Regions from separate parts of the Homo sapiens genome. Here regions 2 and 3 are each linked to region 1. Evidence: fine-mapped expression QTL. A gene starts in region 1. Each other region holds a variant in brackets. All regions are shown on one strand. Distances are from middle to middle.

Region 1 (10,222 bases):
CAGTGGGTTTAGACTGGTACGTATTTACCTCAGGTTCTCTCTCCTCCTCCCCCAAACTGCCTAAAAAGTGCGTAAACTTAAAACTCCTAGAAGAACCCATATTTCTTTTATCTAAAATCCAGTTGTCTGGTATGTTAGGTTTTTTTTTGAAGTGGAAAAAAAATGCTCACCACTTGGCTTCTGGAAACATTATCACTGAACACCAATTGAGCATCAGTAATTATTATATCTAAAATGAAGGGTGTAAAAGAAAGATTCTATGTATTTTGTAGGGTGGAATAATTCAGTTTAGTTTTAAATTTATGAGCTCCATTTAACGCAGCATCAATTTTTGCGGCAGTGACATATATGACAAAAGCTGTAGGGTTTTGTTTTGTTTTTTACTAGGAAGAAGGTTCTGACGTGCACTGCAATAAATTTGAAAAATAACTGACATAACACACTACTGATGCACTGAATTACAAGAGCCCAGAGCAGTTTTTGGACAGTTTGATAACTGATTTAATTGTGAAGTTATCCACCTTTGGTTGAACAGAAAATGCTGGCCAGAAGACATTTTGTTCCCTTTATTCACAAAGAATACCCTGCATAACCAGGCGTGGTGGCTCACTCCTATAATCCCAGCACTTTGGGAGGCTGAGGCAGACAGATCACCTGAGGTCAGGAGTTCGAGACCAGCCTGGCTAACATGGTGAAACCCCGTCTCTACTAAAAATACAAAAATTAGCCAGGCGTTGTGGTATACACCTGTAATCCTAGCTAACTGGGACCCTGAGGCATGAGAATCATTTGAACCCGGGAAGTGGAGGTTGCAGCGAGGCAAGATCACGCCACTGCACTCCAGCCCGGGCAACAGAGAGCGACTCTGTCTCAAAAACAAACAAACAAACAAAAAAGCAAAGAATACCCTGCATCAAAATGAGACAGTAACCCTAACAGCTTTGACTCGCATATTTAAATCCATCTGTTTGGCCACGGTTAAAAATAACAAAATAATCATGATAGTTATGATTATGGCTCCCTGAAAGATTTCACAACTGGCTGCTCAACTGTGATTTTTTTTTTTCTTAATTTTGGAGCTAATATGACTTTCTAAGGAAATCTCTGAAAATAAAAACGTCATTACGCAACATTTCTTGCCTATGTTTTCGCCTTGAAGCGACGTTTCTTTAATAAAGAATCAAGACACAGACCCAAACATGAATGAATATGCATTCATTAATTCACTCCTTCATCGTTTTGAAAAGGTAATTCAAACTAGGCCAGAGACACGTAATAACATCTTTGAAAAGACAGGCTGGGCACCCAGGGCTCACTCATGTAATCCTAGCACTTTGGGAGGTCAAGGTGGGTCGACTGCTTGAGCCCAGGAGTTCAAGACCAGCCTGAGCAACATGGTGAGAACCCGCCTCTACTAAAAATACAAAAATTAACCGGGCATGTTGGTGCATGACTGTAGTCCCAGGGAAGGCTGAGGTGGGAGGATCATTTGAACCTGGGAGGCAGAGGCTACAGTGAGCCGAGACTGCACCACTGCACTCCATCCAGGGCGGCAGAGCGAGACCCTGTCTCAAAAAAAAAAAGAAAAAAGAAAAGACAGAGTGCTGAATGAGGTCTTCTTTCAGTTAACAGTTTGAAAATTATGCTGGTTTGGGATATAAACGAAAAGTTAATTTTAATGTAACAAATTATCAACATAATCTAAATTTACTTATACAAATATTTTATGAATAGGAAAGGTTTTAAAAGAAGTCAGCTAGTCAGTAACTGAGGGGAAAAATGACCTTGTTCTGATTTATCTCACGGTGGAACAGGGAGCTACAAAAAGACTACATAAACAGTTAATTAACTGTCCCTCGGTGAACTTGTTCCCAAAAAAATGTCAGTGATGCCCTTGAAATTAGGCACTATTGATCTGGAACTTCAGTGTGTCCTGGATTTCAAATCAACATTTATCCATTAAGGCCAGATGACCTTAATTTTTATTTTATTTATTTATTTTTGAGATGGAGTTTTGCTCTAGTCGCCCAGGCTGGAGTGCAATAACGAGATCTCAGCTCACTGCAACCTCCGCCTCCTGGGTTCAAGCGATTCTCCTGCCTCAGCCTCCCAAGTAGCTGAGATTACAGGTGCCCACCACCACACCCGGCAATTTTTTTGTATTTTTAGTAGAAATGGGGTTTCACCATGTTAGCCAGGCTGGTCTCCAACTCCTGACCTCAGGTGATCTGCGTGCCTCAGCCTCCTAAAGTGCTTGGATTACAGGTGTGAGCCACCAAGCCTGGCCGACCTTAATTTTTAAAGTTGCTCTTGGAAATATGACAGTTGTTGGTCACAGGAATTTAACCAAAAACTGATCCTACCTTTCTCAATAACTCAAACATCTTTTAAGTATTCCGTGTTTTCCTACACCATATCTGCCTCATAAACATGGACTGAGAAAGAGAAATATTGGTTTAAATTAAGTATGTAAAATTACTGCTATTATTCAAACTGTGAATCAAATTTAGAGTTTTGGTATATTCAAGTCCCTAAACTAGGACTAGTTTCTTGGAAAGAAAGTGTAAATCTGAATTTGGCACATAAGGATAACATCCTAAAGATACTCTTCTTTACTGAACCGTCTGGCTTTTGCAGCCCCATCTTTTGGTATTACAAATGCAGTTGGAACACTATCAGCCAAGGAACACTACCGTGAGTTCACATTAGCCCACAGGAACTCCACTCCACAGCTCTATCCTACTGAAAAAGTACACTGGAAAATACAGTATGTTTTATGTACTCCCCATAGAACATAAATAGAAAAGACTTGTTCACCATTATTGCAGAGCCATTTGCAATTTCTGTGTCTTAAGCCAAAATACAAACCAAAATTAAAATGTTGTCTTTCCAATAAAGCGAATTTTCCTTTCTCAAAAAGCCTGCTATTTTATCCACTCTATTTAATTTTTTCAGGAACTAACAACAATACAGACCCAGGTATGTCATAAACAACAGCACAACCAAACACTTCTTTCTAGTTCTGAAACCTAATGATCATTTGGCTAGAAAGATAGAGAACCCCATCTATAGTCCTCTATCCCTTTTCCTGACTTGGGTTTACTAGACCTACTGTTGTGGCTTCTTTCTTTCTCCATCTCCTGGAAATGCCTTTTCCCTTCAGGGGCCTGGGATACGGATTTTGACTCACAATGAAGTCCACTCCCATTTCCTCCAGACCTGGCAACAGTAGGATCCTCACTGCTGAGGAGGAACTTCGGTGAAGGAAAGGGGAAACTTGACTCAGGAGTCTCAGCGCTTACTTTTTTTTTTTTTTTTTTTTTTTCCTTCCTGCTCCAAAAGAGAGCCTTAAAGCACTGATGAGAGGGTCCTGAATCGGTGTATGGAGTCAATTTCCCCGCCCCCTCGAGAAAGTCAATCACACCCAGTTAGTGACCTGGGCACACAAAATCTCCACATAGGAAAAAGACAGGGTTTGAAATAGGAAATAAACAAAAATCAGAATTCTATTCTTTCACTTCTTAAAAGTATCTTTTTCCTCCCGCAATTGCTTTCTCAAAATACCAAACTTGGACTTTGAAATCAAGTTCTTTTTCTATTGCTCTCCGCAGTTCTTACTGAAAGCAAGGATTTGTTTTGGTCCCACATGTTGAAAACTTCACGTCCCTATAATTAAGAGTTTATATGCCACGCCTTCCACCGCGTTTCCCTGTTAAAACTCCCTTCTCTAAAAAAGATCCCTGAAAACACAACTACCAGCTCGCCCCTCAAGCAGCCACAGGAAACAGATCTGAAGATTCTCAGCAGCCATCCTAACCTCTCCAGATATAAAGCTGGCAGCTGAAGGGATTTCTCGGTTAAAATGAGTGAATACTAGTTGCAGTTTTAGAAGTGTGCCCCCAAGAGACGAGTTTTCCCGCAAGCTCATAATTAATAAACACCCCAAGTGAATTTCTCACATCCTGACTGGATTACACAAAAGGATATTTTACATTGATATATAAGACTAACATTGATATTCTTTTAATATATAATAGGCCACAAGGAGACAAAAAAATACAAAACTTTTTTTTTCTTTTCAACGAGCATAATTTTTGAGTCGATGATCCATAATTTTTTGTGGCATTTTTAAATGCCTCAATACACACAGACAGAGAGACACACACGCCCCTCTGGTTGGGGTTCTCAGGTATTACCGGGAGCCTAGGGTGTGGGGGTCTAAGGATACAGACAAGACCTAAACGTCCAATCCTGGAGTATTCTTCACGTACAAGCTCGGTCCAAGCCCCAGGAGTTAAGCCCTACCCCTCCACCCCCACCACCCCCAAAAAGTGCCCGTTCCCATTGGGAAACAGGAGTGAGTTGCACAAGGAAATCGACCCGGGGAAGAGGAGGAGCAGCTGCAACAGCCAGCTGCAGCCACACAACGGTGCCACTTCCCTCCCGTCTGGGAGTGGAGCAAAACGCCCTTACCTGGGGGGTGGAGAGCCGCCGGCACTAGTTCCAAAAGTTCTGGTCCACCTCCTCTCGGAGTTCAAAGCCCCAGCACTCCGGCCCGGCCGCCAGCTCGCAGCACACGAGTCCTTCCCCGTCCTTTCCCCACCCTGCCTGCACTACACCATGTCAGGAATCCGGGCAGGCACCGAGCTGGGAGCTGACATCACTCCCAGTTCCAGGTACCTCCCCCTCCCACTGCCGCCCTTCTCTCCTCCCTCCCTGCAGGAATCAGCCAAAGAGAGTCAGCAGTGGGGCGGGGCCGGGGGCGCCTGCGCGCCCGCTGATTGGAGCCGGGGAACGTCACTCAGAGGAGTCCACTAATTTTATGCATTCCTCGCTGAGCCAGACTAGGGCTGGAAGTGGGTGGATGGAAGAAAATGCTGCCCTTCCTGCTATCTCTAAGGAACGGAGATAATCCGATGGGGAAGAACCTGGCGGGTCGAGTTTTAAACTTTTCTTGTTGTAGTTACTGAGATTCCAGATCAGAAACGAAACTAACCCACGCGAACCCCCTTTTTAAGGAGAAACAATTGCCTCGGTGTCACAGGCACACGGGCATGTACAAGCCCGGCGGCGCGTGGTGTAGAAAATGGCTAGCTTTAAGCCATGCAAATAAAGGAAAACGTCAGCTCACCCTTCTGCCCTTTTATCCTGGGACTGCTGGGTGTTCCCTTAGACGGGGAATGTAGAACTTCAAAAGCACTTCAGAAAGATTTGGAAGAGACTCCTGAAAACGGTGACCGAGCTTTGAATTGTTAAGTGGTGGTGTTGTCAGCCATGTGGCTGCTGTTGCTTTTAGCGATGAAAATCACACCACACAAGCTTCTCGGGCAAGTAAAATTGAATCTCTGAAGCAAGAAAAATGTATTTCCCCGTTTAAAGACCTTAAGGCTGCTGTTTCAATGCACACACTGAAAAGGGTGGAGGAAGGAGGGACCTCACAATTGAGTTCCACAAACCACATGAGAATAATTACTGTAGAATGGAACCAATTGTAGTGGCTGAGCTCTCAATTAAGAATTAACTAACGTTTATCCTTGACAGATATCATGCGGTATAATCCCCTTGGCTGACAGAAGAAAAAGATTCTCAGAAAATGGTTCTTTCAAGGCAGATGCTGCTTACAGGCAGACCTGAATGGTGAAAAGCAGCTTTATTTGTATGAGATATAGGTAGCATATAACCCACCATCTTCTAAAAATATAGTGAATTAATAACTTTCTCTTTTTTTTCTTCTTTTTTTAAACAGGTCACTCTGCCACCCAGGCTGGAGTGCAGTGGCATGATCTGGCTCACTGCAACCTCCTTCTCCTGGGTTCAAGTGATTCTACTGCCTCAGCCTCCGAGTAGCTGAGACTACAGGCGCCCACCACCACACCCGGCTGATTTTTGTATTTTCAGTAGAGACGGGGTTTCCGCCATATTGGCCAGACTGGTCTCGAAATCCTGACCTCAGGTGATCCACCCTCTTCGGCCTCCCAAACTGCTGGGATTACAGGCGTGAGCCACCACACCAGGCCTCATTGTTTTTTGATTGATGACATGCCATACATTTACCGATCTGCCAAAAATTGTAGAGGGATGCACAGAATCCAGCATTGTGTCTTGTTTAATCTTCTCAATCATCCTGTAAATTGAGTGTTACTAGCCCTATTTTAACGTAAGGAATCAAAGGCTCAGCAAAGTTATGTAAGTAAATTTCTCCAAATCAGCTAGAACTTGGATTGAAACCGAGGTCTATTTGACTCCAAAGCCATTGATTTTCTTTCTATATCTCAAGTATTGAGTGTCCATAATTTATACTTTTTCAAACAATAGAATGCTACAAGAAATCCACAGGCTTGGGCCACTGCTCTCACAGACCTACTTTATATAATTACCATCTTGTTGCTTGTCAGACCTGCAGTATTCCAAACTCCTGACTTGAATTTCTGACTCCAGTTTCCCCCAGTTCTAATTATTTCTCTGTACCACTCACTACCGATGAGTTTTCTAAAATGTTTGGTTTTGTCATCAACATCTTCCCCTCTAAATCAGGTCCCCCTTTCCCTGCAATTCTTATCTAGCCATTTAAAACTCTCTCTTATCCTGCTTCTTACCTTTCCCAGCTTATCTCCCACTTCGCTCCCAGGAAACCCTCTCTGTAGTCAAACAGGTCTACTCACAGATCCCTGCTTCGTTCTCACCTTTCAGCCTAACCGAAATCCCCACTCCTCTGTGGGTTAAGTCCCACCCTTCTCTCAAAGCCTAATTAAATTAAAGTCCTTGTCCTCTGCCAAGACTTAGCTGTGTGTTACAGTGGACAGAGAAAAGGACTCAAGGTTCTTGGCCTGGCTCTGCCACTTAGCTATTGGGTAACTTTGGGCAAGTCACTAAAACATCCATCCCGAATCTCAGTTACCTCCTCTTTAAAATAGGGCTGACAATACCTATGTTAAAGGTTGTTATAAGGATTGAGATTGTACAGATGTGTAAACATGTGGTTATACATGTCCAGTTAAATGCCTTTCCTGCCTTCCCAAACTCTGAAGAGCAAGCATCTTGCTTATAGGACCTCTTTATATTCCTTATACCCAATTCAAGGAAAAGGCTCAATAAAAATATAGGGCATGAGAAAATAGATCATTGTATCATTTCTATTCTCTTCCATTCTTTAAATGCAGTCTATCCCCAAATAATCTCTCAGACAAAAACTTTAACTGTTTCTTCTTGTTCTTTTTTTCCTCTCTCTTTCTCTCTTTTTATGCCAGAAGGGCCAGAGCCCTTCTGTTCTCCCACACCCCTACCCACCGTTCGTTCAACACCCTTAACTTCCTCAGATCACTTCTGGACCAACTACTTCACCTGTCTCTTAATTAACTACTGACCCTTCCCTGTCCCACAGTCAGGGACACAACTTGTCCATCAGTGTCTGTTGCCTGCCTTGCTCCCAGATGCCTTCAAACGGAGGCTGGGTGGCTACCAGCCATTCCTCCAGCCCTAGTCAGGACGGCTGCAGCCAGGCTCACATTTTTCCAAAACTACAGCCAGCCACAGGAGATGGGGGAGGGAATGTCCCACCCCCACAGAGATGGCAGGATAGAAAAACAGGAAGTCGCCTCCCATCCTTTCTGCAGCTGGAGTGATAACAGCTGCCATCCAGAATCCAGAAAACAAAAGACTCAAAGGGAAGGCTGAAAACGGGCCAGGTCTGGAGCAGTAACATTCAAGCTAGAGGTTACAGAGTGGGTGAGGGAGGAACCAATGGTTGAGATTTCAGCCTCCTTCTACCTCCCTTTAACCAGAGTTACAGCTCTTTTATCTGCTCTACATTTAGGCTTCACCATGATACTTCATTTTTTGAAGACAGTGTAACCCTTAAATAAACATACTGAAATCACTGGCCTCTGGGTGTCTTGGGGAAACTCCAAAAAAATCAGGATAGTGCAGCAGAAGCAAGACAGGATGCCTGATGAGCAGGTAGCCAGAACTTACTCCTCACTATCCCGGCTCCTGGCTGGCTTAGTGCAAATGATCATTTATGATTCCTATGATTTCAACGCTAATTTATTCTGTAGGTCTAGATATTTTCTGCCTAGTTATTCCTATGACTAACCTTACCTTTGGTAACTTTTTGCCAAAGAGTATCACTATTGCGGGGTAGGGAGCAAGAGACACTGCAGAGCAGGAGAACACCTGCTCAATTAGAACTTGAAATGGATCCTAAAAGTCATTTGATGCAACCACTATTAAAATGCAAGAAACCCTTCTTCAGCATTCCTTACAGGTAGCTTCCAACCCCTGCTTGAACTTATCTGGCAACCAGTAACACACAAAATAAGCAAGCAGCCCACCATTAAAGATCTTTCTCGGTTGGGCGTGGTGGCTCACGCTTGTAATCCCAGCACTTTGGGAGGCCGAGGTGGGCGGATCACCTGAGGTCAGGAGTTCGAGACCAGCCTGACCAACATGGAGAAACCCCGTCTCTACTAAAAATAGAAAAAAAATTCGCCAGGCGTGATGGCGCATGCCTGTAATCCCAGCTACTCGGGAGGCTGAGGTGGGAGAATTGCTTGAACCTGGGAGGCTGAGGTTGCGGTGAGCCGAGATCGCACCATTGCACTCCAGCCTGGGCAACAAGAGCAAAACTCCATCTCAAAAAAAAAAAAAAAGGGATCTTTCTCATATCCATCTGGATCCTGCTTTACTGACTTTCTCCCCAAAGACATCTGTCTTGTGTCTCATTTAATCCTCACAAACATCCTGTAAGGTAAGTGTTATTAGCATCATTTTGACATGAGGAATCACTCTCCAGGGTTATACAAGTAAATTGCTCCAGATTCCCCCAGAACTGGGATTGAAACCAAGGTCTATTTGATTCCAAACCTATTTTGTCTTTCTGTGTCTGAAGCATTGATTGTCCACAATTTACACTCTCACTTCTGCCCTTTGCAGTAACAGAACAAGCTGACTCTTTAGTTACACCATCCCCAAATCTGAGCAGGCTTGAGGACACCTCCCTTTCTTTGGATGCAGGTACCAGAAGAGGCTCACCCTACTCATCAAATCCACAGCATTTGCCTGTCTGGTCTTTACAGGCTTCCAGCTGCAGCTCTCTAAAGCACAACCCTGATCACTCCTGACTCTAAACACTTAAATGAGTCTCCCTTTACCAAGGAACAAAACTCATCAAACTTTCTTGACTGGTGTCCAAAAGCCTTCACATCCTTGCCCCCAACTTACCTTTCTGAACTTATTTTCGACTCTTCTTCATATGCCCACACTGCATGCACTGCATGACTTTGCACCCATATTTCCTAATAATACATCCTCACTGTGATTTTTGCCTGTTTCTACAAAAATCTACCTCACAGTGTTGTTGCAAGGATCTGACAAGATGTCATATGCAAGATGACAGAGCACCTTGCCTGACACATCATAGGTGATAAGCAAACATATTTTCCTTTTTCCTACAACATAAAACAATTGTACTATAATTTTTATAGGTGCCTTATGTTCCTTTCTGGCTCCAAGTTTCTTACAGTCCTCAAGAACAGAATGCTAATTTATTTCATCTTTACATCCTTTGTAGGATCTAGAACCATGTTTTGTCCCATAGACATTGATTAAATATTCACTGAATGAATAAGTGAATGAATGCTGTCTTTTGCTTGAAACTCATAACCTGCTATGGTCTAGGTCTTCAGAAGTTCAGGAATAACTTGACCAGACTGATCACAAAGGATCTGGGTGCCTCCAGTTGTTGTTATCCCAGTCACACTGCCAAACACAGAGTGGGTTAAACACATGGTATAAATCATGAACCCAAATCCAAATCAAACAAGCTTAGCTTTAGAATTCCTTCTAAAGGAAATTACTGCTTATTCTGTCTGATCCTAAGCGTGGCATTGGTGATAATCCAGACGTTATTTTAATATCCTTTCATTGAATACTAAGCCACTACCTAGCTATCACCATTGACATCATTTCTGAATCCAACCCTCCTCCCCATTCCCTTCTTGCCCATAGAGACAGGTTAGAAATAGGCACAATATCTTGCTCCAAGTGGGGAGTCTTATTTTAATCACTTTTTCCTTACAACCCAATTGTGCTGGTTATTCTCTGGTTACCCACCAGATACATCTAAAAATCTAGTTACATTCAACTTACTCATTTTATTAGTCTATTTATAAGTTGAAAAATTTTAATTAAAAATAAGGATAATTGGTTTTCATGGTCTTTGATT
Region 2 (10,222 bases), 120 kb before region 1:
AGCTTCCAAGTGTAATGATTCAAGTTCACAAAGGCTAAGAGAAGGGATGCTACAATAAAATAACACTTCCCAGTAAACCCTTAGGCTTTTAAATTGTGGTCTCTTATAAAATGGGGCAAAATATTACCTATCATAGTTATACAATTACACCTTAATAATGGCACAATATTTCACTTAGATGATATCTATTTTCTTCTTATGAATTAGGTCATGAACTGTTTGACATTATTCAGCAACATATTTGTGATTCCTCAACTAACAGGTCAGAATTCAAGTCTAAAGAAAAAAATCAGCTTTTCCCAGTTATCTAAGCTAATCATCCTTGCATAATATGAGTCCTTAGTGATATTCATCAATATGATCTTTCTAAATATATATTTTCCTACTTTCTCATTGCTAAGAAATACCATTGAATTCTTATCTGCTATTGTATTTTACAGCTTCCTTTCTTCTTTGCTCGTGCAAAGAAGAAACCACTGAAAAAAATGGAATTGTAAACTGGGATAATTTATCTGTTTTAACAAAAAACTACTCAACTATATTTCATGGCAATACTTTAAATATGGTCTAAATTTCCAACCTGAAATAAATCACATCTTCCCCTGACAACACAAGCTGGAAAATCTGGAAATGGCTCCCTAATGTAAAACTTTAAAAAACAGAATACAAACTATTTCAATCAATTTCTTATCAGAAGTTCAGTCCTTTTAAAAAAGAAAATTCCTGTTCCCTTTCTCTTTTCCCTTTCAGAGAATTCAGGGCTCCTGCAGGAACTCAGTCTCTGACATGTATGCTCTTACCACAAGGGGGCACTGTTGAATGATGCTAATCATCTCCCATTAGCAATTCCAGGGACAAGTCCTGAATCTTCCAAAGTTTAAAGACTTGTACCCTCAGTCCTTTGGAAATGCCTATACTTCTTCCCCATGCCAATATTTTCTTGGAAATTAATATCCAAATATAAATCTAAAATTCTAAGAGAAAGTTAAATATTATGGATTCATGAAACACCCAGAAAAATATTTTTATTAAGGGGACGATAACAAGAACATGAGAATATTCAAGTTAGTTTAATGTTGAAGATTATTTTAATTATTTTCATATGTAACATCACAAAGTTTACCACATATGCTCTAATCTCCGGGTCTGTGCATACGTTTTAGAAATAACACTGAATTTTTATTAGATTATCAGGGATTGAGTGTACAGGAAGTTTGATGACAAGATCACTTTGTATGTGATTGAGAGTGCATGAGTGAAACAATGAAAAAGTGGGGAAAAGAGATTTGATTAAAAAAAGCAGCCAAACTCAAGGGATATAAATATTACCCTAGGCGCTTACAACAATAAGTAACACATCTACTGCAATTTAGCCCCAACATTTGGTTAACATCTCATATACAAATTAAGTTAACAACAGGTGAATATTTCCCCTTGACTTTGTGGACGCAATGTAGAAGACCACCTCTATCCATATCTACCATCAATTCTTCCCTGCAGCAGAGCTAGCTCCACTGCCATGTTGCCCATCTGTTGACTGAGTTTTACTATTACTTTACCCTGCGACTATGGGGTTAGGACCTGACAAAAAGAGGGGAAAGAGGAAAATATCAAAGAGATTTTTAGAGAAAATACAAAACCAAGAATTTTAAATTGGGTAACTTTCTAAGTCCTGTTTTAAGAGCCCCAGCTTCTATCAAATGAGAAACATGCTCACACAGGCAACTGACAAAGAGTTTTAAAATTAAAACATGGCTGGGCATGGTGACTCATGCCTGTAACCTCAGTGCTTTTGGGAGGCCAAAATGGGAGAATTGCTTGAGGCCAGGAGTTCCATACTAGCCTGGGCAACACAGTAAGATCCTATCTCTTAAAAAAAAAAAAAAAGATTAAAACATGAACCAAATGAAAGACTTCCTTTTGCTATGGAGGAAGCAAGACATATACCAAGACTTTCCACTGTAATTGAATCTTTGACAGAAAATTTAATTTTGAAAATAGCAGTGGAGTAAAACTTGTTATTTCCAATATAAAGAACTTTCCTATGGTGGATAATGTATGTAATGCCTGGTATCATGCTGGCTTATAGTCAGCGTGAAATACATGATTGAAATAAAAACAGAAGGGAAAAATAAGTAAACCATTTTCTCTCCTCTCTCCTTGGTACCCATTTTCTAATCCAGCATGACACCCTTCCATACTCCAACCAAGGAAACAAAATAGGAAGCAAAAAGGAGGGGAGATGGCTCTCAGAGAAAAGAAATTTCTGCAACTCTTTATACTTCATTTCAAATGTATGTTTCAAATGGATATGCTCTCTGTCTCCATCAAAAACCAACAGAGAGGTTAAGAACTTGCCAAATGTCACAAAGCAAACAAACTAGGAGGCCTGAATTAACAAAATAGAACAAACAATAAAGCTTGTTAAGCCACTAAAATGGATACTTCAAGTTACAGAATGTACCCTGATTTTTGTAGAAGTACAGTGAGTCTTATTTAATTGGAATGATTTACATGTGGAACAGACCAAAAGTAGAATGCCAAATTAAAAGACCTCAAAAAAGCTCTGTCTGTGATTTTGTGAGTATAGAATGTTAGCATGTTTTCTATACAGATTTTCAAAATCCAATTACATAGTAAATAATCAGTGTGCCTAAATAATAACTACTAGTGAAACCATGTATTTAAGCCCATTATTTACAAAATTAAGAAAAACAGTATGGATGGACGGATGCTCCAAATATCGTAAAGTCAAAAGTATTTCTAAAGGTTAATAAAAAGATTAATACTTCATATCAAAAGTCTAAAAATAAAAATTGCCATTAGCATCTAGTGATAAAAAGTCAATGCAATGAAAGATTATTCTTAAAATGAAGTAGGATGATGGTACGTAGTAATTAACTGCCTTCCTTGCACACCTCCAGGGAATTTCAACTTTGCCCTAGGAATGTATGTGTGTCAGAGACAAAGACAGAGTGACAGAGAGAGAGAGAGAGGGAGGAGAGACTGTATCACTCACCTCTGTGTCTCTGAACTTATCTTCATAATCCAATCTGTCCTTCTCTACAGCTGTCAGTTTCAACTTCAAGTTAGATATTTCAGCCATCAGATCCAACTTCTGAGTTTCTAAGGATGTCCTACTTAGAAGCTCCTATTATAATTTAACAGATACATTCAAGAAGTCTTTTATTATAAACAGGCACGTGAATTTACCTCATTTATGATCGCACAAAGCAGCACCTATCAAGTAGAGGATATAGTGAAGTATAATTACTGAATCTACACACTTTTAAAAAATTATTCACTTGAGGCTGGGCACAGTGGCTCATGCCTGTAATCCCAGCACTTTGGGAGGCCGAGGCAGGCAGATCGCTTGAGGTCAGGAATTTGAGAACCAGCCTGGACAGTATGGTGAAACCCTGTCTCTACTAAAAATACAAAAATTTGCCGGGCATAGTGGCGGGTGCCTGTAACCCCAGCTACTTGAGAGGCTGAGGCAGGAGAATTACTTGAACCCAGGAGGCGGAGGTTACAGGGAGCGGAGATCGCACCATTGCACTCCAGCCTGGGCAACAGACAGAGATTCCATCTCAAAAATAAAATAAAATAAAATAAAAAAGAACTATTCACTTTAGTTACCCTCCTTTGAACAGAAATAAGCACATGTCAGTTTACTGAGGGAGACATATGTTGTGTAGATACACATGCATAAACCATATATATACTTCAGTCTGATGATAACATTGATGATGGTGATACTATGTTTGCTATGTGCCAGGCACCGGTTGTAACAAATACTATTTCAATCCTCACAAAAAACTTATCAGGTAGAAATTCTTATTATCCTTAATCAAAAGATGAGGAAACATAGTAACAGAGAGGTTAGGAACTGGCCTAATGTCATACAGGGAAAAAGAAAAAATAAAAACACAGCAGGAATGGAAACCTACGAGGTTTTGCTCAAGTGCATACTCCATCCATGACCTTACAGAGCCTCTCCTATATGTTAGATATTTTCTTTTCTACTTGTGTGGCTACATAGTAGGAATATACATTTATGGGGTATATGTTTTGATACAGGCATGCAATGTGTAATAATCACATCATGGAAAACGGGGTCTCCATCTTCTCAAGCATTTATCCTTTGTGTTACAAACTATCCAGTTATATTCTTATTTCCAAATGTATAATTAAATTATTATTGGCTATAGTCACCCTGACGTGCTACTAAATACTAGGCCTTATTCATGGAAACTATTATTTTGTACCCCTTCGCCATCCTCCACCTCTCCCTTCATCCCCACTACCCTACCCAGCCTATGGTAACCACCCCTCTACTCTCTATCTCCATGGGTTCAATTGTTTCATTTTTAGATCCCACAAATAAGTAAGAACGTGAGATGTTTGTTTTTCTGGGCTTGGCTTATTTCACACATAATGACCTTCAGTTCCATTCATGTTGTTGCAAATGACTGAATCTCATGCTTTTTTATAGTTGAATAGTACTCCATTGTGTATAAGTACCACATTTTCTTTATCCAGTCATTTGTTGATGGACATTTAAGTTGCTTCCAAATCTTGGTGGCTGTGAACAGAGCTGCAGCAAACTCGGGAGCACAGATATTTCTTCGATATACTGATTTCCTTTCCTTTGGGTATATATCCAGCAGTGGCATTGCTGGATCATATGGTAGCTCTATTTTCAGTTTTTTGAGGAACCTCCAAACTGTTCTCCATAGCAGTTGTATGAATTTACATTCCCACCAACAGTGTACAAGGGTTCCCTTTTCTTCACATCTTTGCCAGCATTTCTTATTGCCTGTCTTTTGGATAAAAGCCATTTTAGCTGGGGTGAGATAGTATCTCATTACAGTTTTGATTTGCATTTCTCTGATGAGCAATGATGTTGAGCACCTTTTCATATGTCTGTTTGCCATTTGTATGTCTTCTTTTGAGAAATGTCTATTCAAATATTTTACCCATTTTTAAACTGGATTATTAGATTTTTTACTATTATATTTTTTCTTAATTATAAAACACATGCTATGGGTGAGAGGAAACCATCTGAATGCAAAAAAAGAAAATTAAAATAAGCCACAATCCTATTGACATTTTGTTCCAGATTCTAATTACATAAACACTTTATATTGTGTGCATGTGTTTTGAGACTCTACTACTCTCAATTTTTTTTTTTTAATGTGCTGGTCTAAATGAATCAAGAAACTTACTGCTGCATCAGAGCAAACACAACATAGAAATGCAGCATCTCACATAGTTCAGCAGGGAAATCCCATCTTGGTTCTGGCCTCTGCACATACCTGCTGCAGCATTTCTTCTGTGGCATTCACCTTCTCTCTGTGCTCTTCAAGACAAAACTCCAAATCTCGAATCTTCTCTCCCTGAGCCTCCACCTGGTCTGTTAACACACTTACCTGTATTTAGAGCAAAATAATGCAATGAGTGAAAAAGAATTTGGGTCCCACTGCATACGTTATTTCTCTAAATGGAACAAAAAAAGGAATGATCCTACCATTCATACGGTTATAAAGAAAAAAAAATCTGAGAAGTACCAAGAAGACAGTGGTCCCTCACATTCCTATTTATATGTTGCTATTTGATTTAAGGAGGCCTATACAATTTGGAGAAAATTCGTGTAGATTAGGAATGTACAATACTTTTTGGTTAAAGCTACTTCAACCATTTATGAAAGACAGCATGT[A/G]CAGAAGTTATCTTTTTAGGGGGCAGCGTGGAGATAGTATAAGAGAGGAAACAAAGTTAATGTTTGAAATAGAAATTATCAAAAATTTGATACTTCAAGGAGAATAAGAAAAAGAACCTGGCCAGGGGTAGGGGGGAGAGGTAGCATGCACGGTGGCTCACGCCTGTAATCCCAGCACTTTGGGAGGCTGAGGCGGGCAGATCACTTGAAGTCAGGAGTTCAAGACCAGCCTGGCCAACACGGTGAAACCCCATCTCTACTAAAAATACAAAATTAGCTGGCTGTGGGGGCATGTGCCTGTAATCCCAGTTACTCAGGAGGCTGAGGCAGGAGAATCGCTTGGATCCGGGAGGTGGAGGTTGCAGTGAGCCAAGATTGTGCCACTGCACTCCCGTCTCGGCAACAGAGCGAGACTCCGTCCAAAACAAAAACAAAAACAAAACCCAGGGAATTCAAATTCCATGAGCTCTTTGAAGATGACACAGATCATAGATGTGTTCAAAGTCAGGGGGGGCAACTCAATATACCCAAAGGTGCCTGAGGAGCTGTTGGGCTAGTCCTTCAACTCTAGTGCTTACAGCAGATCTTTGAGTTTTTCCTCAATAATCATCACTCAGTAAATATACTTCAATTCATTTTGCTCAATATACCAAAGAAAAATGTTTGTGAAGCATTTAAAACATTATGAAGAAGCAAACTCAAATTTAGCCCACAAGGAGGGTTCTAGTCACTGTTTTGTTTTGTCTCACACAGGGTAACATTTTTAAAATTGAAAAATTAAATATATATATTCTGATTTCAGATTCAGAAATATAAACTTACATATATTCAGATGTTATGCTATATTCATATATCTGAATTTCTGCTATATATTAAAATATACTTAAAAATCAGATCCAGTGAAGCATGGTGCTGCACACCTGTAATCCCAGCTACTTGGGAGGCTGAGGTAGGAGGGTTGCTTGAGCCTAGGAGTTCAAGACTAGCCTGGGCAATGTAACAAGACCCCGCCTCCAAAAAAAAAAAAAAAAAAGAACAGATCAGACAACATTGTGCCCGTATTCAGACTGGTCCTGCAAGAGCTGAGGATGATTAATGGTAGCTCCTTTTAAACTGGGTGTAAACACCATCATTCTGCCCCAATCCTCACCACTCCCTATTGTGTACAGATGGCTTATCAGGCTTATTTCTATTAGCAGTCTGATTGCTGCAAGCAATCTGAATTTGCCACCCCAATTTAAAAGGCTTTGTAAGTATGCTGCAAGGAAAGAACAGTATTTAAAAATCACTTGCCTGAAGAACGAGGGATTCTTTATCATTTTCTAAACGTGCCAGCCTTTCTTGATACACATCTCCGTTCCCTGGTAGGTGTCCATTTGTCTGAAAAAGGAAGTAATATGGGTAAGGCTGATCTTCTCTAAGAATGATATATCGTAGATAAATGAAAATCACAAGTGTTCTTAGTCCAAGGGGCCTGAATTGAATCTGCACAGCTGTCACTGTCAAACAGAAAATACGAGAATGCAATTTGGTTCATTTACCACAAAAGAGGTAAGACAGGCATGTTAAGCATATAGGCATGTTTTGCCAAAGTAAACAATTTCTTATCAAGCAGAAAATAATGACCCACAAGGAACAGTGGATACTGGTATTCTTCACTGAGAGCAGACACACACCCAGGGGCAGGCAAAGCTTTGTGAGTATGTAGGGGGCACCCCGAGTTGTTGAGGTCTGTCTCTCTTCCTCCAAAAGCTTAAACACTCAGGCCACAGTGACTTCCCCTGGTAGCGCAGACTAGCCTCACTTATCTCCATTTTAACACTTTTTGTCCTGATCTTATTAACTTGTGAGTTTGCTTCTTTGTATAACGTTACCTTCTATTCCAGGGCAGAGCCTATAATTCGTTTGGTAACCTCCCCAGCATCTGGCTCAGTGCTCTGTGTATATTGATGCTTACTATTTCTTCCCCTCCCTCCTGCCCCCCACACTTTTTTAAAAAAAAATCATGTTTCAGTATATTTATGCGTGGTATAAATGCCAAAGGAAGTATAGATTGAGAAACGATGTATAGATTGTTTCTTCCTCAGCTGCCTCACATGCAAGTCATGAAAAAGACACACAAAGAGGCTCACAAAGAACAGAAAACCTAAAAGCACCACTTTGAAACGTACGTAGTAGCATAAGTGGTGTCTCTCATAATCTCAACATAACCATAAGATAATGTAATCCCAATAGAATTTCCTGATTCTTCATTCAAATACAATAGAAATAAAAGCCAGCTGAAATCCGAAAGTGTTAGATGGGGCCACCCAGGGTTCAACTGAAAAAGAAAATAATACCTTCAGATTTAGAACCAGAAAAAATACAAACTGTATAACTTTACTGCCCAGGACACATCTGATGTGACATCTACTGTTTTTCCAGAATTAACTGATACCATTGTTCTATCTTTCCAATAAATGCAGTTTCTAGTATCAATTCTTGGAATAATAAAAGTCATGTGCTGGGAAGGGGGAAGAAAAAAAACAGGGCTTGAATGAAAAGGAAAATTTCAGAATGTTTTTTCTAAAAACTTTAGCATACTGAATACATTTTCCAAAAGGCCACTAAGAATCAGAGGCTAATTTAGTAAGGGTGCAATGCATATTTAGAGTGGATTAAAATTTTAAAATCAGCTGCTTTGCCACATACCTCTACAATTACCACGGCATAATTCTGCTCATATTGTTAACTGAAGTGCCCAGCATTAAATTACAAGTATTATGAAGAGTGTGATGGAGTGGCCTGGACAACTTCCATTCCTGGGGACTAACATAAAAATAAATTGTGCACAACTTCTCAAGGGCAGTTTTTTGGAAAAGAGCCAGGATGAATAACGCATGTTCTCAATCTTAAGAAAGTGCCAAGACAGGCCCTGTAGAGCTTTAAATTCCTTATTTTGATTATGGACATTAACAGCCATCTGTTTTTAAAATCCCATACAAGTAACAATAGTTTGGAAACAGATACATTTCAGTAAGTAGAAAAAAACTGCTGTTTAGTGAGGACAAAAAGTAAAACTGGCCAAGGGTGGTGGTGCATACCTGTAATTCCAGCACTTCGGGAGGCTGAGAATTGTGTGAGCCCAGAAGTTTGAGGCCAGCATAGGCAACATGGCAAGACCCTATCTCTTAAAAAAAAAAAAAAAAAAAAAAAAACTTAGCCAAGCTTGGTGGTGTGCGCCTGTGGTCCTAGTTACTCTGGAGACTGAGGGAGGGGGATCACTTGAGCCCAGGAGGTGGAGGCTACAGTCAGCCATGTTTGCGCCACTGCACTCCAGGCTGGGCAACAAAGCAAGACTCTGTCTTAAGAAAACAAACAAACAAACTGATCTTTCTTCTGGTTGGAGGAAATTATAGCAAGATGAGAGCAATGTTTCCTCCCAAGCTACTTTGTATGATATGGAAGTGAGGTGTTCCAAAACCAGTTCTCCAAAATTAGCCCCAAATAGAAACAGATACTGAAAATTGGCTCAAAATTAGCATATTTATTTTTCTCAGTACTGTATTGATATTTACAAGCACTCATAATGCTCAAGGGTAGTTTAGTATATTAAAAGTCACTATAGGAACATAAGGCAGAATTTAAGAGTGATCAATGTTATATCCTTGTGTTAACTTAAGTAGGTAAAGACTGTTCTGTCCACCTGTGTTTATATTTCTGCCAATTTTGTTTCCTTTGCATTAAGAATGTTGGCAGTAAGATCCATTAGGTAAATACCCTATTGTCTCTATTCTTCCTTCAACTCCCACGTTCTACCTACCAGGTCACTCAAAACCTCCCCATATATGGCATGCTCTTTCACACACTACTTTTATTCCTTCTGCACGGACCGTCTTTTCCCACCCTTTCTTCTTCTTTCCCCATTCCTTAAGGTCCACCTCTATCAGGGCTTGGTCTGTGAGGTCTTCCTTGAATTCACTGTTTGCTATATGCCAGCGACAGTATCTACATGAACCTTCATTACAGCAGGCATTACTCTGAATGCACTAAGGTTAGACTTGACTGCATACATGTCTCTCTCTTCTAATAGACTCTGCATTCTTTGCAAGTAGATTTGCCTTGGCATGTGACATACAGTGGGCGATAACTAAATGTCTGTTGAATGGAAGAATGACGATAGGTGTTCAATAAACACTAGTTGAATACAAGATGACTGCAGGTTTGGTTTTGATCTGCCCTTCTTGCTTCTCAGTGGGTCTTTATTTATGTGTCCTCTATAATCTGGTATGCACGCCATGGTTGACCTCTATCTAGACTGGCTCCTTTTTCCTCCTGTACTCTCTCTTCCCACTATGTTTAGGAGGTGATCTCAGAGCCTTTGTCAGCACCACGCTCTAACCAACTGAGCTAACCGACCGCCTGATCTCAGAGCCTTTGTAATGGACAATAGTTAAGGCCATCTTGTGTGAGCTCCCTTAGACACCTTCTTCCTCAGTGCGTAATAGTATAATATATATTACC
Region 3 (10,222 bases), 50 kb before region 1:
CAATACCTCATATTCTAAGCCTACTGGGTCATTAATGGGTCAACTAGCAATTCTCGCTGGTGTAGATAAGGTAGTGAAATGGTCTGTGAGGTGAAGAGTGATGAAGGACTCGAGAAGAGGGCTGTGCTTTTTATTTTATGTTCTACCAAGTCTGTGTCTTCCTTCTCAGTGCCAAATGAAGATTTGCTCACTGCCTGCCACACCGCGTCTAAATCCTACAGCCACCTATGTTATTCATACTACTCTTAGAATTTACAGGTTTTAAAAGGGCGAGCAGATACAAACACTCCTAGACTTAATGAGTAGACTCACTAGAGTCAAGTAACTTTACTCCTGGAAAAAAATTCACACACACTGAGAGGAAATTGCAGGTTTTAGAGAGTCTGAAATGAACCATGGCCAGAAGTGAGTTCACTTACATTTTTAAAAAGCAGGTTTAAAGCTGATTTATTTCAGTTCTTCAAATCTTGGATGTACTCAGCAAAGTGATCCACACGTTCTTTTATACTGAAAAGAAACAAATACAAAAACGACAAGTTAAAATTATAGCACATCAGAAAAAATAAAAGTGGCAAATGGCTGATTATATAAAGAATATTAAACTAGATAACATGAGTGTAATTAAAAACAACAAAACGTGTTAAGGACTTCCTTCCATTCATCCTTTCTCTCCTATCCTCCTTCTTCCTTCTTCCCCGTCCAGCACTCCACCCTTCTCTCCCTTCCTTCCTCAGTTACTGGACAACCTCAAATATTCCCTGATGACTAATTTTTCTGCTGAAGCCACCATCATTAATTTTTATAGCACAAAGTAGTAGTAGCACATGGTAGGTACTCTATGAATGTTTGTTGAGTAAATGAATGAACCACGGTTTTGCAATATTTTGTCGTTAAGGTAAAAAAAAATGGGAAATGTCCACAATTTATTATTTTGTTGTCCAACAGGAACAAGTTGTATAAAATATGTAGAAATACATACACTATTTTTCAGACTTGCATTTTTGATTCTCTTATCTCTTGAATAACTCATACTTAGGGGAAAATCCCCACTAGTATATACAGGAACATATATCCTCACCATGATACAGTAATAAAATATATTTTGGTACTAAAAGAATATTTAAGAACAGTGAACGTTCCTTTTGAGATGCCCTCTCTTCAAATACTTCAGAACTAACTGCATCCAAAGGAGAAAGCAAGGTGTCTCCAAGTTAAATACCAGAGATATTCCCATACATGTTTTACAAATGCATAAAGAGTCAGGGCCAGTTCTAGACAAAATTATGACGTATGGATGTGGCTGTTTCCTTCCTTCTATCTGTCCTTGTGAGGATTCATTAACCCCAGATGTTTAATCAAGTAGGGAAGCAAAAGGATCAGCTCCAAGGTTGCAACAACTTAATGGATATCCTTCATGAGGACATTTTTTATTAAAAAAAAAAAAAGCTTCAGAAAAGGCAGGTGCTTAACAGTGAAATAAAATGCATTACTGGCTATGGCATTTCAGGAATGAATGGGGGTGTGGATTTTCATCGTGGAATTTCTCAACACCCCATCAAATCACATCAGGTAAGTATCTGTCCATTCCTCTTTCTCCTACCACTGGCTTCATATATGGCCCATATATACACACCAATCCCAGCAAATTTTAAGCAACTTATTATATGTAAACAGGCAAGCTCAATTTTAAGACTAGGGTGCGCTCTGAAAGTAAACAGTCATGTTAATGAGCAGTTTTCAAAGTGAGCTCCTAGGACTCCCACCCTAAGATGCTTCAGAGAGCAGAGGCAGAAGTGAGTGGATGTGCAGCCATGGGCACAGCGATTTCACTTTCATCTGTTTCAGACTTAGACACAAGATTTAGTTGGAGAAGTGGTGCCTTGAGCTGTTTATGAAAGAGCTGAAACAATCAATGTTACCAAAGAATAATTAGATTAAAATCTAGTGCAGAAAATCCCAGTCAGTCCACAACACAGCTGATCTAACACCAAAATCCAACCGCCACCTGTCATAGGGCCTTTATGGTAAAATACAAGTCCCAGCCTGAGCCCCAGGGCAGAGGTCAGTCCGGGTCTGAGCAGACAGGAGCTGGGCCTTCTCTTCTTCCCTACTTAGCCCCCTCATCTCCTGCTCTGGAACGTAATGAGCAGAAGGAAGGGCACCTACACTTCCATGAGGACTGAGTCAACAGTAAGAGGGCAAGATTAGGCTGCAGGGGGAGGCTGCAGATGTTCACAAGATGGATAAGCAAAGGTCTCCAGCAGAGAACAAGACATGGCGGGTTTCTGCAAGTCAGTCACTTCCCAGGCCCTGTCCCGATCCCCACCAGCCTCTTTGCTGGGAATTCCATGTGCAAGGTTTACACGCTTCACCTGGATCAGGGCTCTTGGCTAGGAATAAGAAAGGAGAAAATTAGTAGAATAGTTTAAAAAGAAGAAGAAGACAAAAACCTATGTTCTATAAAATCCAATTCAAAACAATATGTTAAATGAAAAAAAAAGCGGTGGGGGATGGGGCAGAGATGGGAGGAGGATTATGAGAAAATAAGTATTGCCTGAATGTGCTCCAGAGAAATTCACATTAACTAACAGGCACTGAGTATATTCAATCCCTCCCTCAGCACAGAGCTCTGATTATTTGGCCTAACCAGGACTGAATACACAAAAACATTTATAAACATGAACCATTATATTTTTTGAGTTTTCATCATAGGACTTGTTTAAGTAAGTCAAAGATGTTCTTTGTTCTACAGTTTTGATCAAATGAAGAGACTTTAGTCATTTCCTCAGAAACAGACTTAAGCTATAAATACTAACTAACCAACATAGCCACTCGCAAAAAATCTCAATGACAAGTTTAATTTGAAAACAAGAACACATTATCGAACTGAAAAGTAAGCCATAAAAAAATCCAAACCCATGCAAACAGCATTTCTAGAAGAAAAACCCTTAGTGAAATGACAAGCATAAATACAAATAGCTTGTTATTTGACTCACAAACCTATCCCATACATAGAGAAGCAAAAAAGAAACCAGTCTATATTTGGGTCCATTTAATCAAACAAACTCTTAACATCCTGCCCACAACCTCAGGTCTCAAATTCCAAGATAATTCTCCAACTGTTAAATAAGTGATTTCTATGGATCTCTTTGAGATAAAAAACACATTTGTTACTATTGCTTATTTTCTAAATCCCTTTGCTATCCTAAAGTATGACCATCATGAGACTAACATGTTAAACAATCATTAAAAATCAAAGTTTCTGTTTATCATAATACATAATGCCATATCTCAGCCTTCAAAATGAAATGGAATCTATAGTCTCCTTTCAGATATGACTTAAGTGTCTAAAGCAAGGGTCTGTAAGAAGGCCAAATGTGGGTCTGCCACCTGTTTTTGTAAATAAAATTTTATTGGAACACAGCCACACCCATACATTTACATTTTGTCTGTGGTTGATTTTTCCAAGACACAATAACAGAGTTGAGTAGTAGCAACAGAGACCATAAGATCCACAAGTATAAAATGTTTATATCTGGCCTTTTAAGAAAAGATTTGCTGACCTCTGGTCTAAAAAGCCTGCTACTTCAGTAGACTGTCTTAAAATAAGAAATGCTAATCCTGGTATAGTCATGTTGCTGGATAATTACCTAAGTCACTTAACCTTTAACTGCTTTAATTTTTTCATTTATGATACACTAATTGTGATATTCGTTGGGAACTTATATACCAGGGAATATTTTAAGAGCTTTGCTCTTAGTAAATAAACAACAAATCTGTTCATTTAATTCTGACAAATATCCTAGGAAAGAAGTAAATTATTTCCACCTTCTAAATGAGATAATCAAGGCAGAGGGGTTAAATAACTTGTCCAAGGTTAAGTAGTGGAGAAATCAGGACCAGAACCCAGGCAGTCCAGCTCCTGAGCTCATTTCTTAATCTTTATGCTACGTTGATAATACTTTCCATTTTATAAATTATACAAAATAAAATCTCAAAAGGTCTGTTAGTTATGTTAGGTCAATCCAGTAAAATATACCTCTGCATAATTTAGGTTAAGATACCAAAAATAAGACTATACATGGACTTCCATGGACTTTTAAGACCCATCTAAGATTAGAGCTAATCTTGGGGTACTGGGAATATAAAAGCTTATCATTCTTTATTTTTTAGCATAAGTAATCAAAGAATCAAGCTAACTGACCAATATCTATCTTTTCCTTGGTAAGTAAGGCCTCTCCAGGAAGTTCAGGCCCTTCAGAAAGGCTTCAGGAGGAAGACTTAGCAGAGAGACTCTAAATCTTCCAAGTTTGTTCCCATCTAGTCTTACCCCCCACCAAGTTTCCATCTGAGAAAACGTTGAGTAAGCATCAACAGACTTTACGGAAAGATTGTTCTCATAGCCTGGCAAAAAGAGCTCTATCCAGCCACAACCATCACATGGTCAGGAAGATGTCCCCTTGCTGAATCACCCCCACCACTTCCTGAAGTTCTCTGGGATTTTGGGAGGAAATATGTCACCTAAATGTGACTCAGTGCCCTTCTGTACTGAAAGATAGGTTTATATGATTCCAAATAAATCGAGAGAAAACATAGCACTAAATTACTCATCACCAAGTCATGTGCAGAGATGGTCTTAATCTTTTTGTTGTTTTGGGCTTTTTTTTTTTTTTTTAAGAGACAGGGTCTCACTTTGTCATCCAAGCTGGAGTGCAGTGGTACAATCACAACTCACTACAGCCTCGAAAGCCTGGGCTCCAGCAATCCTCTTGCTTCAGTCTCCTGAGTAGCTAGGAATACAGGTGTGCAAGCTTGACTAGTTTATTATTTTATTTTTTTGTACTGATGAGGTCTCACTTTGTAACCCAGGCTGGTTTCTAACTCCTGGTTTCAAGTAGTACTTCCATCTCAGCCTCCCAAAATGCTGGGATTACAGGCATGGGCCACTGCACCCGCCGGCTTTTAACCTTCTTTTTAATCACGCTAGTCTCCAACTGGTTTTCAATGTCTGCAGAGTAAAGTCTAGATCCTTGAGTTTGACTTTAAAGACCTTCCACATCTTGTCTTTCTAACTTTTCCAACCTCATCTCCTTCCATGTTTGGTCTTCATGCCTCCAGGATGGCCGGCTTTTTCTTCAGTATATCATATCTACTCCTGTTTCTGAGGCCATACTCATTCTGTACCCTTTGTTAAAGACCCTATTTTCTCCTCTACTACCAACATCAAAACCTATACTAGCAACACACTCAAAACCATATTTGTGGCTCAAATATGGTTTTGGCTTCTTAGATCTTGCCCAAATCATGAAGCCTTTTCATATTATGTCCCTATGTAGTCTTCCTTTTCTCTCATTGCCAACACCCGTTACTATTTCCACCACCCATTCATTC[G/A]GGTATTTAATCATGTATTAATGTTCACTGTTTAAATATTCCAAAAGTCTGTTTTGCTTTCTCAATAAGACATTGTTTCTCAAATAACAGATTCTTTCAAATAGATGCTTGGCATTTTCAAATTGTAGATGAAGAGTCCTTGACAAGTAGAGCTAACTTAGCTGAGAAGCAAATTCAAATCACAAGCTTGGGCTGTGTTAGTTACATGGAGCCCAGCCAACCAATAAACATCTGCATTCCAAGAAAGCTTTGTTTTCTGACTATCTAGTAACTCTTATGAGCAAACTTCAAACTTATTTCTTTGTGGGATTGTTAGAAAAAAGCCAGCGGTCAGTCCTAGCAATGAAAGTGAAGATCAAGTGGTACAAGAAAGTGATAGCCCTTAGCCAATAAAATAAATAGACATTAAAGAGATGAAGAAATTACATGTTATGGTATATCTGCAAATCTAAGGATGGATGAGGGCTTGGGATTCATGCCTTATGCTTTAAAGGGTTTAGTGTGCAGTTTTTTCTGTGTTCCCACAGTACTAAGCACTGTGTTGTAAATACTAGCTCAATGAATAATCTGATAATCCCATGTCCCAAAGTCCTCAGTGAACCCATTTTCCATGCCAAAATAAAAGTCACTGTAGTCAATTTCCCTCGAGGTTGCAAAATTTTAGTATTTGCAATATCTATTGACATATTACATCAAACAGGCCCACATGTTTTTAAATTAACATGTTGCTTTGCAATCATATTTGAAGTGTTTAGTAATGGCTTGCTTTCTTTGCCAATACTGCCAAATTATTTTTATTTTCCACAGTAAAATCCTAATTCAAAGATTCTGAGCAATTGTGGAATTCAAAAGTTGTCATTCTTTGAAAATTTTGACTGAATTGACTGAAATGATTAAAGTCTGCCATAAAGTTTTATATAAAAGTAAACATATGTAGAGTAATATGCTGTGTGAGACTGTACTGGCAGCCTAGTGAAGGAAAGAACATGGTTCAGCTTCCTGGTATACCAATTATATACCAATTTTTCTTTGTGGCAAATACTTTAAAACTTTATTTTATATGAGAATAATATGGACTGAAGTGCAAAATTTACATAACAATGTATTAAAACTATATAAAAATATGAATTATAGCATAAAAATTACATAACAATATATTTAAACAGTGGGTTTCAATTCAGTTGGGGGCAAGAACTTTAGAGTAGATGTTCTCATTATTTGTACATTTCTTGAAGCATCAGGGTAGAAATCAGAGATTGCGGATTACAGTCAGTCATCATGTCCTCAGAGGAAAAAAGCATTCTATAAATGTCCTGAAATATGTTCTATCTTTTTGAAAATGTGAGAGAAATGACTGCGCCACTCTCAAAATTCAGGCACCCATACCTAAGAAATCCTGTAAAATCAAGTATTTCCACTAAATCACTAACCAATGTGTTACTGCAAATATCACTCAAAAAATATGAAGTCAAACCACTGAGATCCCACAAGCATTGTGAAAGGCCATTCTGAACTAATGTGAAATTTGTATAGTGATTGAATAAAAACAATGACTTCAGCCCACTGGTATATAACACTTTATCATGTCGGTAGAACTGCAGGAACTAACACACCCCAGTGAGGTCATCATAGGTCTGAAAAGTGGGTTGGCTCATTATGAATTCTATCATTACTGACCCAGCAAGAACAGTAGAGACTCTTTCCCATAAAATGCCCCACATGGAATAGGCACATTTTCATTGTCAGATTACAACCATGTTCTCTGCATCATGTGTGTTTGAGGGAAAAAAAAATGGATTGGTGGGTTCATCTCCTCCCCCATTTTCCCTCTCATTTTACCACGGACCAGATTGATACATGCTTTTTCGGTGGGTAAATTGGCAATTGACAATGCTCATCAAAAGCCCTAAAAATATAATAGCCTTTGGCCCTTCATTCTACATTTATTAGACTTACAAGAAAAACCTGGAAAAATGAGCAACGATGAATATATACTCCTTTCACAAGAATGTTATAATATTTATAATTAAAAAATGGAAACAATCCAATGTTTGTACACTGAGGTACATCCATCAGAATATTAAGCAGAACCAGGTTACAGGAGTGGTTACCAATAATTCATGACACAGAAGGACCCTCATAATATACTAAAGGATCTGCTTTTTCATAAATATACACACACATAAAAGTCAGGAAGAATATGGTTTTCAACACTTTCTTCTTCCCCTTCATCACAGATCCCAGAGCAGTCTACTACCAGTAACATCTTTAATTAGAGAGAGATGTGGGAGGGGAGATGAAAGGAGAGGTATATGCACATTTTATTTTTTTATTTTTTTATTTTTATTTTTTTCTTTGAGACAGAGTCTCACTGTCGCCCAGGCTAGAGTGCAGTGGTGCCATCTCGGCTAACTGCAAGCTCTGCCTCCCGGGTTCACGCCATTCTCCTGCCTCAGCCTCCCGAGTAGCTGGGACTACAGGCGCCCGCCACCACAACCGGCTAATTTTTTTTTGTATTTTTCGTAGAGACAGGGTTTCACTGTGTTAGCCAGGATGGTCTCGATCTCCGGACCTCATGATCTGCCCACCTTGGCCTTATGTACATTTTTTCAAAACCCTTCCCACCCCCAGTCAGTGGGTCTTGTGTCTCCCTCTGAGGTATGCTATCATATGACAACATGTTGACAGTGGTTGTTACTGTGTGGCAGGATTTCAGATTAATTAAATGTGATTTAATTTTTCATTTTGTTTATCTGTACTTTATAATTTTATTATAAACATTAGGTATTGTTTTTGTCAAAGGAAGCAAGCAAGATGACTTAGAGGGTAGAATTTGAAATCAATCAGCCTGACTTTTAATACCCCATGTCCACAACTTTTAGCTATATGATCTGTCAAGTTACTTAGCCTAGCTAAGCCTCAAGTTTTCTCATCCAACAAATAGGCAGAATAGTATCCAGCTATTTTATTATTAGGGAAGCTAACAGAACTGCATATTCGATAAAGGAATGATTACTATATAGTATGTAAAATACAACTTTATTTAAGTGTATATATTTTAAGAAAAAAATTGAAATCCTAGTCTTATTGGGAAAGAAAATAAATATATGGTGAAAATTTCATCTGCAATGGTAACCAAAAATGCATATTAAACAGCCATGAGTTACCATTTTACATATACCAAAACACACAAAAAATCCTAACTCTCACCGGTGGCGATGTTGTAGAACTCTAAATAACAATAACTAATTGGAAATATCTGAATATCCATTATTAGAGGGATGGTAAATGGTTTAATTAATTTGGGGAAGTCAAAGCAATAAAATTAAGAAATTATCAAGGCTATAATGCTAAAGACCATGGAGAACAGGATCTAAAATATCTAAACTTGGAAACTGTATAAAATGTAGGCTGGACGCGGTGGCTCACACCGGTAATCCCAGCACTTTGGGAGGCCGAGGCAGGTGGATCATGAGGTCAGGAGTTTGAGACCAGCCTGTCCAATATGGTGAAACCCTGTCTCCACTAAAAAATACAAAAAAGTAGCTGGGCATGGTAGCCAGTGCCTGTAATCCCAGTTACTCGGGAGGCTGAGGCAGGAGAATTGCTTGAACCCCCTGGGAGGCAGAGGTTGCAGTTAGCCGAGATTGTACCATTGCACTCCAGCCTGGGCAACAGGGCAAGACTCCGTCTCAAAAACAAACAAACAAAAAAATGTAGATATATGCACAGGAATGATTGAGGTGAGTAGGAACATGTGAGAATGAGGAAGGGAGACTTTTTGACAGAGAGCCAGTGGGCAGGAAAGCAGAGGGGTGAATTAAAGAGTGCCTCAGCAGTCAGACCAGAAGGCATAGTCAGCCATCCAACTATTTATGTATAGCCATACAACTATTTGTGTTGTATGAAAGATAATACGAGACTTCTACTTTGTAGGTGTGTTTACAGTATTTAATATATCAGTGCAATAATGTGTGTATTATTTATAATAAATATACATACTGAAGGAGATGCTCACAAGTTTGATGACAGCAGTACCCTGATGAAAAAGGTTCAGAGCCCACTGCAGAAGGCTTTAAAGCGGGAGAAAAATCAACATCAAATTAGAATTTCAAAAAGATCATTCTGGAGACCACACCAGAGGATGAATTTGGAGGCAGGGGATGCAATTATGGTTTCAGGGCCATGAACTAGCAGTGAGAATGCAGGGAAGAGTAAAACTGAGAAAAGCATTTAGGGGATTCAGTTGGGGCATGAAGAAGCAGACATCACTGATGACTCTATGACTCTGGTTTCTGACCTTTTTCTCTGTGGTAACAGAGAATTCAGAAGACATAAAATAAAGTGGCAGGGGGTGCATAATTAAATTTTTATCACATTTGAGTTCAAAAAGCCTATGGAACCTCTTGGTGAATACATATACAATGTAGTTGGAAAAACAGGTCCAGAAAGTTTAGTAAAAATCCCTGGGTTCATTCATGGTTGAACTTCATCTGTTTAAAAGTGGTCAGCAACAAGATGGGTTATTGATAAATTCACTGGGAAAGAACACAGGTCATGGAAGCAAAGCCATTAAATAATTTTAGGAAGGAAGTTTCTAGAAGACGGGAGAAGTCTGGGAGAGGCTGGAAGGAGAAGGCTGGCTAGGGAAGCCGGCTCTGTTAAGTGACCCACTACACCCACAAGCACTCCGTGATTGAGAACATCCTGGCATCATATCTGCTTCCAAAGCAAAACAAGGCCCCTCCACTTCCATCCCTCATCCTTACACAGTTGGAAGCTGAATGAGATGGGCTTGGTGAAGAAAGATGTAACACTGGCATTCTTAACT

Evidence for each region. PIP is the estimated chance that this variant, and not a neighbour inherited with it, causes the effect.
Region 2: its variant is fine-mapped to the expression of PPFIBP1 in testis (GTEx, PIP 0.94).
Region 3: its variant is fine-mapped to the expression of PPFIBP1 in tibial nerve (GTEx, PIP above 0.99).

Annotation. Positions count from the first base shown.
Region 1 is chr12:27,518,617-27,528,838 of GRCh38, reverse strand. PPFIBP1 (PPFIB scaffold protein 1) reads right to left here and starts at 4,633. Exons shown (of 30, transcript NM_003622.4): 1 at 4,474-4,633. RefSeq lists enhancers at 4,011-4,611, 4,858-5,317, 5,215-5,816.
Region 2 is chr12:27,642,939-27,653,160 of GRCh38, reverse strand. PPFIBP1 (PPFIB scaffold protein 1) reads right to left here. Exons shown (of 30, transcript NM_003622.4): 5 at 7,013-7,099; 6 at 5,319-5,432; 7 at 3,020-3,151. Among named protein-coding and RNA genes, the nearest start is that of REP15, 48 kb to the left of the region's middle. The variant A/G (reference allele first, on the strand shown) is at 5,720.
Region 3 is chr12:27,568,437-27,578,658 of GRCh38, reverse strand. PPFIBP1 (PPFIB scaffold protein 1) reads right to left here. Exons shown (of 30, transcript NM_003622.4): 2 at 420-507. Among named protein-coding and RNA genes, the nearest start is that of PPFIBP1, 49 kb to the right of the region's middle. RefSeq lists an enhancer at 4,349-4,643. The variant G/A (reference allele first, on the strand shown) is at 5,392.